Linked DNA regions of Homo sapiens: region 2 is linked to region 1. A link means that fine-mapping ties the variant in region 1 to the expression of a gene that starts in the linked region. Tissue or cell type: whole blood. Region 1 holds a variant in brackets; the other region holds the start of a gene. All regions are shown on one strand. Distances are from middle to middle.

The links. PIP is the estimated chance that this variant, and not a neighbour inherited with it, causes the effect.
Region 2: FAM229A starts here. The variant in region 1 is fine-mapped to the expression of FAM229A in whole blood (INTERVAL, PIP 0.99).

What each region holds. Positions count from the first base shown.
Region 1 is chr1:32,398,137-32,403,283 of GRCh38, reverse strand. It overlaps the pseudogene GAPDHP20. Among named protein-coding and RNA genes, the nearest start is that of BSDC1, 6.3 kb to the right of the region's middle. RefSeq lists an enhancer at 2,372-2,491. The variant C/T (reference allele first, on the strand shown) is at 2,168.
Region 2 is chr1:32,360,362-32,365,508 of GRCh38, reverse strand. It overlaps FAM229A (family with sequence similarity 229 member A), which reads left to right and starts at 3,024. Exons shown (of 3, transcript NM_001167676.2): 1 at 3,024-3,551; 2 at 3,633-3,779; 3 at 3,974-4,239. The coding sequence starts at 3,418. The coding sequence ends at 4,076. It overlaps TSSK3 (testis specific serine kinase 3), which reads right to left and starts at 2,970. Exons shown (of 2, transcript NM_052841.4): 1 at 2,663-2,970; 2 at 1,197-1,914. The coding sequence starts at 2,807. The coding sequence ends at 1,253. BSDC1 (BSD domain containing 1) reads left to right here. Exons shown (of 11, transcript NM_018045.8): 11 at 1-876. LOC124903933 (a long non-coding RNA gene) reads right to left here. Exons shown (of 3, transcript XR_007065642.1): 3 at 4,181-5,147. RefSeq lists silencers at 3,093-3,292, 3,443-3,742.

The DNA.
Region 1 (5,147 bases):
AAGTGAAACTCCGTCTCAAAAAAAAAAAAAAGTACACTATTATATAGTATTTCCACCATATAGATACAATAAATGTAAGTTACTTCAAGAACACAGATGAGCTCTCTGCTCTTGCCATACAACATACAGACACATCTCGTGTAGCACCAGCAGCAGCCTTGAGACATCATGGTGTGAGTGAAGGCCAGAGTAAATAGATGGGACCATATTGGAAGCCTGTTTACCAGGGCTGCTTTTAACTCTAGCAAAGTGGATAGTGTCACCATCTATGACCACTTCATTCAGGTCAACTCCATGGTCTACATGTTCTAGTATGACTCCACCCATGACAAGTTCCAAGGCACCATCAAGGCTAAGAACAAGAAGTTTGTCACCAATGGAAATCCCATCACCATCTTCCAGGAACAAAATCCCATCAAAATCAAATGGGCTGGTCCTGACGCTGATTATGTTATGAAGTCCACTGGCATCTTCACTGCCTTGGAGAAGGCTGGGGCTCACTTAGAGGGTGCAACCAAAAGGGTCATATCTGCTCTCTCTGTTGATGCCCCCATGTTTGTGATGGCCGTGAACCTTGAGAAGTATGAAAACAACCTTGTGATTGTCAGCAACGCTTCCTGTACTGCCAATTGTTTAGCTGCCCTGCCCAAGGTCATCCATGACAACTTTGGCATCATGGAGGGACTCATGGCCACAGTTGGTGCCAATATTGCCACCCAGAAGACTGTGGATGGCCTCTCTGGGAAACTGTGGCGTGATGGCCACAGGACTCTCCAGGACATCATCCCTGCATTTACCCACTCTACCAAGGCTGTGGGCAAGGCCATCCCTGAGCTTAACAGAAAGCCCACTGGCATGGCCTTCCATGTCTCCACTGCCAACATGTGGGTTGTAGACCTGATCTGCCATCTGGAGAGAGCTGCCCAAATATGATGACATCAAGAAGGTGGTGAAACTGGCATCGGAGGCCACCCTCAAGGGCCTCCTGAGCTACACAGAGCACCAGGTTGCCTCCTCCAACTTTAACAGAGACACCCACCTTTTCCACCTTCAATGCTGGGAATGGCATTGCCCTCAAAGACCACTTTGTCAAGCTCATTTCCTGATATGACAATGAATTTGGCTACAGCAACAGAACGATATACCTTATGGTCTACATGGCCTCCTAGGAGTAAGGGCCCTCTGAACCACCAGCCCCAGTGACAGCACGAGAAGAAGAGAGGCCCTCAGCTGCTGGGGAGTCCCTGCCAAACTCAGTCCCCCACCACACTGAGAATCTCCCCCTCCTGAACACTGTTTCCATGCCAGGCTCCCTGAAGAATGGGAGGGGACTATGAGACCGCACTTTGTCATGTACCATCAATAAAGTCCCCTGTACCCAGCCAAAAAAAGTAAAGTGAGCATAAATGATAGTGAAATATATAAAAGTAATTACATAGTGATGAGTTTGGGTTATTTATTACCTTTGTTTTTATTTTATTTATTTATTTTTTAGAAATGAGCTCTTGCTCTGTCACCCAGGCTGGAGTACAATAGTGTAATCATACCTCGCTGTAACCTTGAACTCCTGGGCTCAAGCGATCATCCTGCTTCAGCCGCCTGAAAAGTTGCGATTATAGGTGTGAGCCACCACACCCAGCTCTATAACTTATTTAATGGTAAGTTTATAAAATTTAATTAAATAATGTCCGTGTTCAACAACCAGCTTTTAAAATTCCTTTTTTTCTTTTTCTTTCTTTTTTTTTTTTTTTGAGACAGGGTCTCCCTCTGTCACCCAGGGTGGAGTGCAGTGGCTCGATCCCTGCTCACTGCAACCTCTGCCTCTCAGGCTGAAGTGATTCTGCTGCCTCAGCCTCCCAGGTAGCTGAGACTACAGGCGTGAGCCACCACACCCGGCCAAAATTCCTGAAATGTTAACAATCAGCTCTAGAGGGCTGAACTAGAACCAGTCCATGGGCTTTTAGGCATTCCCTGTGCTGCCTGCATCAGTAACTTAGGCATTTTGGTCTTACACTGGGTTCTACAAATTACGCAGCCAGTCCTCCTGCCAACTCTATGCTGGAATCTGCACGCCAAACCGAGGGCGGGCTTGGGCCTTGGAAATTTCTGAAAGGCTTGAGTCACCTCCCAGGATTATCCCAGGCCTAGCAGCCTTCCACGGAGGAAC[C/T]CCACCCTGTCCAGAGGAGCCAGAAGGCCTCTCCTAGGAGCCGGGGAGATAGGGAGCCGGGGAGCCCGGGAGCCAGCTTCCCGTGAAGAATGAGTCCACAGCACCATCTGGTGGCACCTGGGTGTCAGGGCTCCTTGGGAGCAAAAGCCAGGATCCTGGGATAAGAATCACCTGCCAATTCTAATGGGGTGGGTAGGGGGAGTAGGAAAAAAATCATCTGCCAAAAGGGGTCCAGCAGTGTCAGAGGGGGGATTTGAGTCAAAGGAGGGTCTGAGGGTGTGGGATTTACCTGCATTCATACTTTGCCTAAGAGCTGCAGGAGACTGTAGAGGCCCCAAGGACAGTGAAAAAACTGAATTTCAGAGAGAAAAAGTGACAACTGCCCATAAACCAGTATTAAAATCTAGCTCTGCTGACTCCCAAACCAGTGTTCTTTCAACATACTGTTTAACTCAACAGATGTCCATTAGCCCTCTACCAGCGCCTAGCATTGTATGAGGCTCTGAGGACAGGGGTAAGGAGGTAAGACAATCATAATCCCTACATGAGGACTTTATGCCTTGCAATGTGCTAGGTGTTTTATTTATTTTCTTTAGTCATTACAACAACCAGAATTAGTATCCCAATGTTAAGGATGAAGACATTGGCCGGGCACAGTGGTTTATGCCTGTAATCCCAATACTTTGGAAAGCCAAAGCAGGTGGATCGCTAGATCCTAGGGGTTCGTAGACCAGCCTAGGCAACATAGCAAGACTCCATCTCTACAAAAAAAAAAAAAATTAAATTAGGCATGGTGGCACATGCCTGTGGTCCCAGCTACTCAGGAGGCTGAGGCAGGAGGATCACTTGAGCCTAGAAGGCTGAGGCTGCAGTGAGCCATGATCATGCTAGTGCAGTCCAGCTGGGGTGACAGAGTGAGACCTGCCTCAAAAAAAAAAAAAAAAAAAGGATGAATATGTTTGATGCCAGAGGTTATGGCAGTGAAAGGAGCCAACGGTCAAGGTACTGGGGTGAACAGATAAGGAAGACCAAAGAAACCCAAGCAAAGGGTCCCACTGAATCCACAGTCACTAGGGACATCATGGGCGAGCACTCTGCTGGGCCTGGGGGTGAGGAATGAGACAAGGTGAAGATAACGAAGGACAGGATGCCTGCAGCTATCATCTGGGTGGGGAGGCAGGACATAAGGTTGGAAGAAGTTAAGACTAGCATGAAATGCACAGAAGCTTGATTTTATTAGACAGCCTTGGGTTCAAATCCGAGTTCTGCCATTTCCTAGCTGTGTTACCTTGAGAAAGTCACCCCATATCTCAGAATCTTAGCTTTTTCACTTTTATTTAAAAAAAAATAATAGAGGCCGGGCACAGTGGCTCATGCCTGTAATCCCAGCACTTTGGGAGGCTGAGGCAGGCGGATCACCTGAGGTCAGCAGTTCAAGACCAGCCAGGCCAACATGGCGAAACCCTGTCTCTACTAAAAATACAAAAATTAGCTGGGTGTGGTGGTGCACGCCTGTAATCCCAGCTACTCAGGAGGTTGAGGCAGGAGAATCGCTTGAACCTGGGAGGCTGAGGTCGCAGTAAGCCAAGATTGCACCACCGCACTCCAGCCTGGGCGACACAGTGAAACTGTCTCAAAATAATAATAATAATAATAGAGATAGGGTGCCATTATGTTGCCCATACTGGTCTCAAACTTCTGGGCTCAAGCAATCCTTCCATCTCAGCCTCCCAAAATGCTGGGATTACATGAGTCACCGTGCCTGGTCACCTTCTTCATTTATAAAATGTAGATTAAAAATAGTTCCCACCTCATTGAGCTTTTGGGAAGGTACACTGTATAAAGTGCTCACCCCAATGGCACCGTTAGATCTGTTAACAGTAGCATTCAATCATTTGATCACATCATCTTCACAACACAAATCATTTCCTTATTCCAAACCTTTGGTGACTCTCCTCTGTCCATGAATTTTAAGTCCTGCATTCAAGGCTCTCAAGAATCGAGATGTTAATGACCTTTACAGCCTCACGTCCATCCTCTCTTTTCCTTTTTCTTTTTAGCTATTCCAGATTGCTCTAAATTAGTCCTGTCTTTGTCCTCACTCTCCTTGCATTTATTCTTTCATTCACTGAACAAATATTGAGTGTCTATTATGTACCAAACACTGTTGTAGGTGCTAGCCGTAGACAAGTGAACAAGACAGACAAAAATCCTGCCTTCATTGAGGTTGCATTTCTAGTCTGAAGGAGGCAAACAATTTTTTAAACAAAGTATAATATACAATATGTCAGAGAAGAGAAATGGGGGTGCTTGTTATGCAACTTGTGATTTTAAATAATGTGGTCAGGGTGAGTAAGAAGATTATATTCAAGTAAAGATCTGAATGAGGTGAAAGTTAGAAGCACATAAATATCTGGAGGTAAGTGCAGTCTAAACAAAAGGAACAGCAAGTTGAAAGGCCCCAAGTCAGGAGAGTCCCGGGAATTTTCAGGGAATATCAAAGTAGCCAATGTGTCTGGAGCAGAGTGACTAAGGGGGCCAGTAATGTGAGGTCAGATCAACTATACGGGGCCTTAAAGGAGACTGTGAGGACTTATTGGCTTTTTCTCTGAGTGAAATAAGAGGACATTGCAGAACTTTGGGCAGAGGAAGGCTGTAATCTGGCATGTATATACATATACATATATATATATATACACACACACACACACATGTTTTTCTTTGTTTTAAAGACAAGGTCTCTCCATTGCACAGGCAGTAATGTAGTGGCATGGTCACAGCTCACTGCAGCCTCAACCTCAAAAAATTAGCCAGGGCTGGGTATGGTGGCTCATACCTGTAATCCTGGCACTTTGGGAGGACGAGGTGGGTGGATCGCCCAAGGTCAGGAGTTCAAGACCAGCCTGACTAACATGGTGAAAACCTGTCTCCACTAAAAATACAAAAATTAGCAGAGCATGGTGGTGGGCACCTGTAATCC
Region 2 (5,147 bases), 38 kb after region 1:
GCTCTGGTGATTCTTGTACCTAATCTGGTGTGCTCACCAATGAGTGAAAGGGATCGTGGGTCAGGGACACCGAGAGAGTGAGGTCACTTCCACTTCAAACCTTCAGTGAGGGGGTGGGATGGAGAGAATGCTGAATCTTTTTTTTGACGGGATGGGGTTTTTCTCTTTGTAATTATTTCTTTAGTTTAATTAACCTTTTGGTTGTTTGTGCAATATTATATATTTTAAATTATAATGCATCTCCCCAGAGTATTTTGTAGCTGGGAAAAGAAAAAAGGAAAAAAAGAAAAAAAGATTCTAACAGCTGTTAGTTTTATAATTAAAAAAGAAAGAAAAAAGAACTTTGTCCTGAACCTTTTACAGACTTGCCGTTAACAGCATTAAAGTGATTCACCCGAAGCTGAAAGGTGTCTGGGGGTCTGTTTTTGTCCCCTTGGCAGCTGCACTGGGCCAGGGCAGGACTGGCTTCCCACTTGGAGCCAGAGACAGGGTAGGGGGATAGCCTAGGTCCAGAGGACGTACCTTGTCCTCATCCCAGATTCAGCTTTGCCTTTGGGATGAGAAAGGGTCAGGGCTCGCAACAGGCCTCTCACTGGGACAAGGAGTCGGGAGGCCATCTCTGCACTCCCAGTGCCTCTGCTTTCCTTTGGAAAGGAAGTTGCAACAAGAATGGCTTCAGTTGCTCTTGGTCATTTTTATCCTCTCTTCCCCCTGTTTGTATATGATTCTTGGGTCTATTTTAATTAACTTTAGTATGAAAATCACTTGTCATGCCAGGCGCAGTGGCTCATGCCTGTAATCCCAACATTTTGGGAGGCCAAGGTGGGTGGATCACTAAGGTCAGGAGTTCCAGACCAGCCTGGCCAACATGGTGAAACCCCATCTCTACTAAAAATACAGAAATAGCCAGGCGTGGTGGGAGGTGCCTGTAATCCCAGCTACTGGGGAGGCTGAGGCAGGAGAATCGCTTGAACCTGGGAAGCAGAGTTGCAGTGAACTGGAATCGTGCCACTGCATTCCAGCCTGGGCGACAGAGCAAGACTCTTAAAAAAAAAAAAGGAAGTCTGAATGAGGCCCTTTGATTCCATGAAGATCTCTAAAAGGAAAGAGTAGTAGTAAGGCTGGGGTAGATGTAGGTAAGTTTTAGGATAAGTAAACTTAAAGCGTAAAATATATATCACCATTTTAGAAGCGGGTTTTTGGGTTTGCTTTCTCCCCCTACTTTATTGGAGAGCACTTGCCATTGCTTTTATCAAGTGCTTGCTAGCCATGGATGCCAACTAACTTCTTCAATTGAAGGCCGGAGGATCATATCGGGTTCCAGGAGCCTCTTGAGCAGGTCCTGGCAATCGGCCGAGATGCTCAGATGAGTGGGGAAGGACACCCCCTTCTGCTGCTGCCACAGCATCTTGGGGATGTCTGTGTCGTCAAAAGGTAGGCTGGCACAGAGCATGACATACAGGACCACACCCATGCTCCAGACATCACCTTTTTTGCTATCGTGGGGAATGCCCTGCAGCACCTCGGGGGCAGCATAGGCTGTACTGCCGCAGAAGGTCTGGCTCAGCTCCCGGTGTGACTTGGGCAACACCTTGGCAAAGCCAAAGTCAGTCAGCTTCAGGTTGAAGCCCTGCAACAAGGCGTTCTCACATTTGAGGTCCCGGTGGGCCACACCACAGCCATGGCAGTAGCGGATGGCCTCAACCATCTGACGGAAGAGGGCCTTGGCCCGGCTTTCAGGCAGTGGCCCCCCATTCAGCACGCAGTCAAAGACATCCCCTCCCTCAGCGAGCTCCATCACCAGGCAGATTTTCCCGTCGGCAGACTCCAGCATCTCATACACCTGGATGATGTTCTTGTGGTCCAGGGTACGGACGATTTGGAGCTCCCGAGGGAGGAATCTCTGGATAAACTCTGAGGAAGTAAGGGGAGGAGAGATGGGCTGGCAGATCAGAAAGGCCCACCTCCTCACACCTGTCTCCTGCCTTCCAACTTCTGCCCACCTTGTCTGGGTCTTATTTCTTGGCTTTCTTAATGGTCTTAAGTGTGTCTAGCTGCTTGGACATTGCAAAGAATGTTCACTTCTATTATTTTTGTCGTTAGTATATCATTCAAAAGAAGCACTCCCCACCAGCCTTGTGGACTGTTGTGAGCAGTCTGTGAGACTGGATATCAAGGTGCTTTAGGGACTTTTAGACAAAGCCACAGAATCACAAATTATAAGGCCTGATTTGTCCACAGGGTGGTGAGCCAGCTCCTCCCGCCACTGTCCCCTGACCCCACAATTCTTTCCATGAGCCCTGTCTTCCTTTTTCCCATCTCCACGGGCCTTGGCACCAGCCCCTGTTCTCTACCAGCCCTGGTTGTGGCCTCTGCCAGTCTCTGTTCCCCTGCCGGAAAGGAAAGCCTGGCTCAGGTTTTGCCTCTGAGGATCCTTCACCTCATGCCACTTTCATCTTGCATTCTGGGGGGGTGTAATGTTCCTGGACTCCCAGAACCCCTCTGTTCCCCACTGACCCACTCCAGAGCTGCCATCGGGCTTGCTTGGTTCCAGGCCAGCGGGAGCAGGGAATGATCGAATGATCGTTCTAACAAACAGGAGGAAGCACCCACCCACCTCAGCCAGTCCTCCCTCCTTCCCTCCAAAGGGGCCCCGGCTCACCTTCTGGCCCTCCCATCTTGTCTATAACTTTAATTGCCACTTTTCTTTGGTGTTTTTTGGAAAATGCTTCTTTGACTTTTGAGTAGGTCCCTTCCCCAATGGTCTTGCCCAGCTGGTACCCATTGGAGAGCAGAAAGTCCTCCATGCTGTCTAGCGCCGCCTTCCTATCACCCTCTCAGCTCATGCTGCCTCTGAGAGGCAGCTCTACTCCACCATCGCCCTTGGCCTGCTCCTTTTCTCCCCAAGGACTTCATCCGCAGCCGCCCCCAGCGTTAGAACATTCTCTGTCTGGACACAGCGGCGGGTGGTGGGGAGGGACAGGGCCAGACATTTTTAAACTCCGGTGCAATTGTGATGTAGATGCTGTGTGACCCTTGGCCAAAATGGGCAGTGCCCCTACCTGCCCTCACTACCACCACCAAACTCAGCCCGGATTAAGTCACCGCCGAGCCCGCCCCCGTGCCAGGCATTGAGTTGTAGTCCCGCCTGGGAGGGCGCTCCGCCGCGTCTGTGTGGACCGGGAATGCGCGGCTCCTCGGCGTGGACGCCGCCTCGCGGCGGGTTGCCCTGGCCTGCTGCGCCCCCCTCGGGTGTCCGGGGTCTGCGCGACCCCGTCTCCAGGCGCCATGGCCAGAGGCCTCCAGTCCCCGATTCTGGCCCGCGCTGAGTGCCAGGGGCGGCAGGGGGCACCGTTGGGGGTTCTCCAGTGGGAGGAACGTGCTCTGTGAGGTCAGCGCGCCGCGGCCCGGGTCACAATGCTGCCCTCCTCGACGCCCGGGCCCGGGCACGCCACAGAGACCTGCCCGGCTCCGCCTGGACCGGAGCGTTCTCCCGCGGCCAGGGCTCCGGCAGCTGCTTCTAGCCTGGGACCGGTCTCAACCGCCGGGAGGTGAGCGACGGCCCAGGGGGCGGGCGCGAGGCGGCGGCGCCCGGCGACCCGGGAGAGGCCTGACCGCCACTCCCCGCGCAGAGCGCCCCGGGGCTTGGACATGAGCGCCCAGGAGCCCCCGCAGGGTCGGAGATTCCCCATTGAGGCCGGAGACTCCCGTGGCCTTGCCGCCGCCCCCGAGTCCCAGGACAGCCCGGAGGCGGTAGCGACGGAGCACAACCCGGTCAGGTAAGGCCCGCGCCCCACCCCCGCCTCCGCCCGTCCCGCGGCCCCGCCCTCCGTCCCACTTGGCGCCCCCAGCAGTCAGGACCCCGCATCCACGTCCGGACCCCCGGGGACCCCAGGTGCACTCCCTGGGTGCGCCCCACAGGATGGGCCAAGCCCCTGCCTCAGCGGCCCCTGTCGCGCGTCAATTTCCCCAGGCCGCTTCGTCGCTGCCCTGGATGCCACTGCCTGACGCTGCTGCACGTGCCCATCGACGTCTACCTCGCCATGGGCGGGAGCCCCCGGGCCCGCGCCACGTGAGTGCGCCTGCTCCCTGCGGCTCCGCGGGAGCTGGGCGGGAACGAGGCCCCCAGCGGGCCACCACGCTGAGGTCGCATGCGCCGAGCACGAGACAATGATGCACATTTTAAAATAAAAGAATGATGCACATTTTAATAAAGCACAGCACAAACTGTTCTTTCCACTCCGGGCTGGCAGTGTATGTCTATCCGTCGGGCCCACCAGCTGCTCTGCCCAGTCCAATAACACTTTCCCTTCCGCAGCCTCCTCGTTTGGACCCAGCCTTAGGGGCCCGCCCTTCCGCCTTTCAACCTACGCCACTTCACTCCTCTCGTATCTTGCTGGTCCTGACCCCTCCTGGGCAGCCTTTCCCTTGGGCCCTGCCCTGGTCCATCTCTCTAACCCTCTGGTGATTCTCCGGTGAAATTCACATCACTGTGCTGGACCCTGGCAACCCACAGAAGCGGGGAACAGGAGGAAGAGGTGGACCGACAAGTAACATAGAATACAGCCATAGGCCACCCACACCAGGCTATCTATCTATCTTATCTATCTATCATCTATCTATCTATCTATCTATCTATCTATCTATCTATCTATCTATCTATGAGATGGAGTCTCGCTCTGTTTCCCAGGCTGGACTGCAGTGGCATGATCTCTGTTCACTGCAACCTCTGCCTCCCAGGTTCAAACAATTCTCCTGCCTCAGCCTCCCAAGTAGCTGGGACTACAGGCACCCGACCAGACCCATTTTAATCCTCTCGAGCGAGAAGTTCTGCGACAAAGTTCTGCGACTTGCTCTTTGTGGCCCTAGGTGCCTGGGACCTTCCTTATTGGAAGGGTTTGGAGCTGCCCCAGTCCATCCTGAGCCTTGGTTTCTCCCAGGACTGAAGTGATCATAAAAAGATTGGGGAAGAGGCCATTTGAAAAATGGTGGCTTGCCAGGCGCGGTGGCTCACGCCTGTAATCCCAGCACTTTGGGAGACCGAGGCAGGTGGATCACAAGGTCAGGAGTTCGAGACCAGCCTGGCCAACATGGCGAAACCCCGTCTCTACTAAAAATACAAAAATTAGCTGGGTGTGGTGGTACGC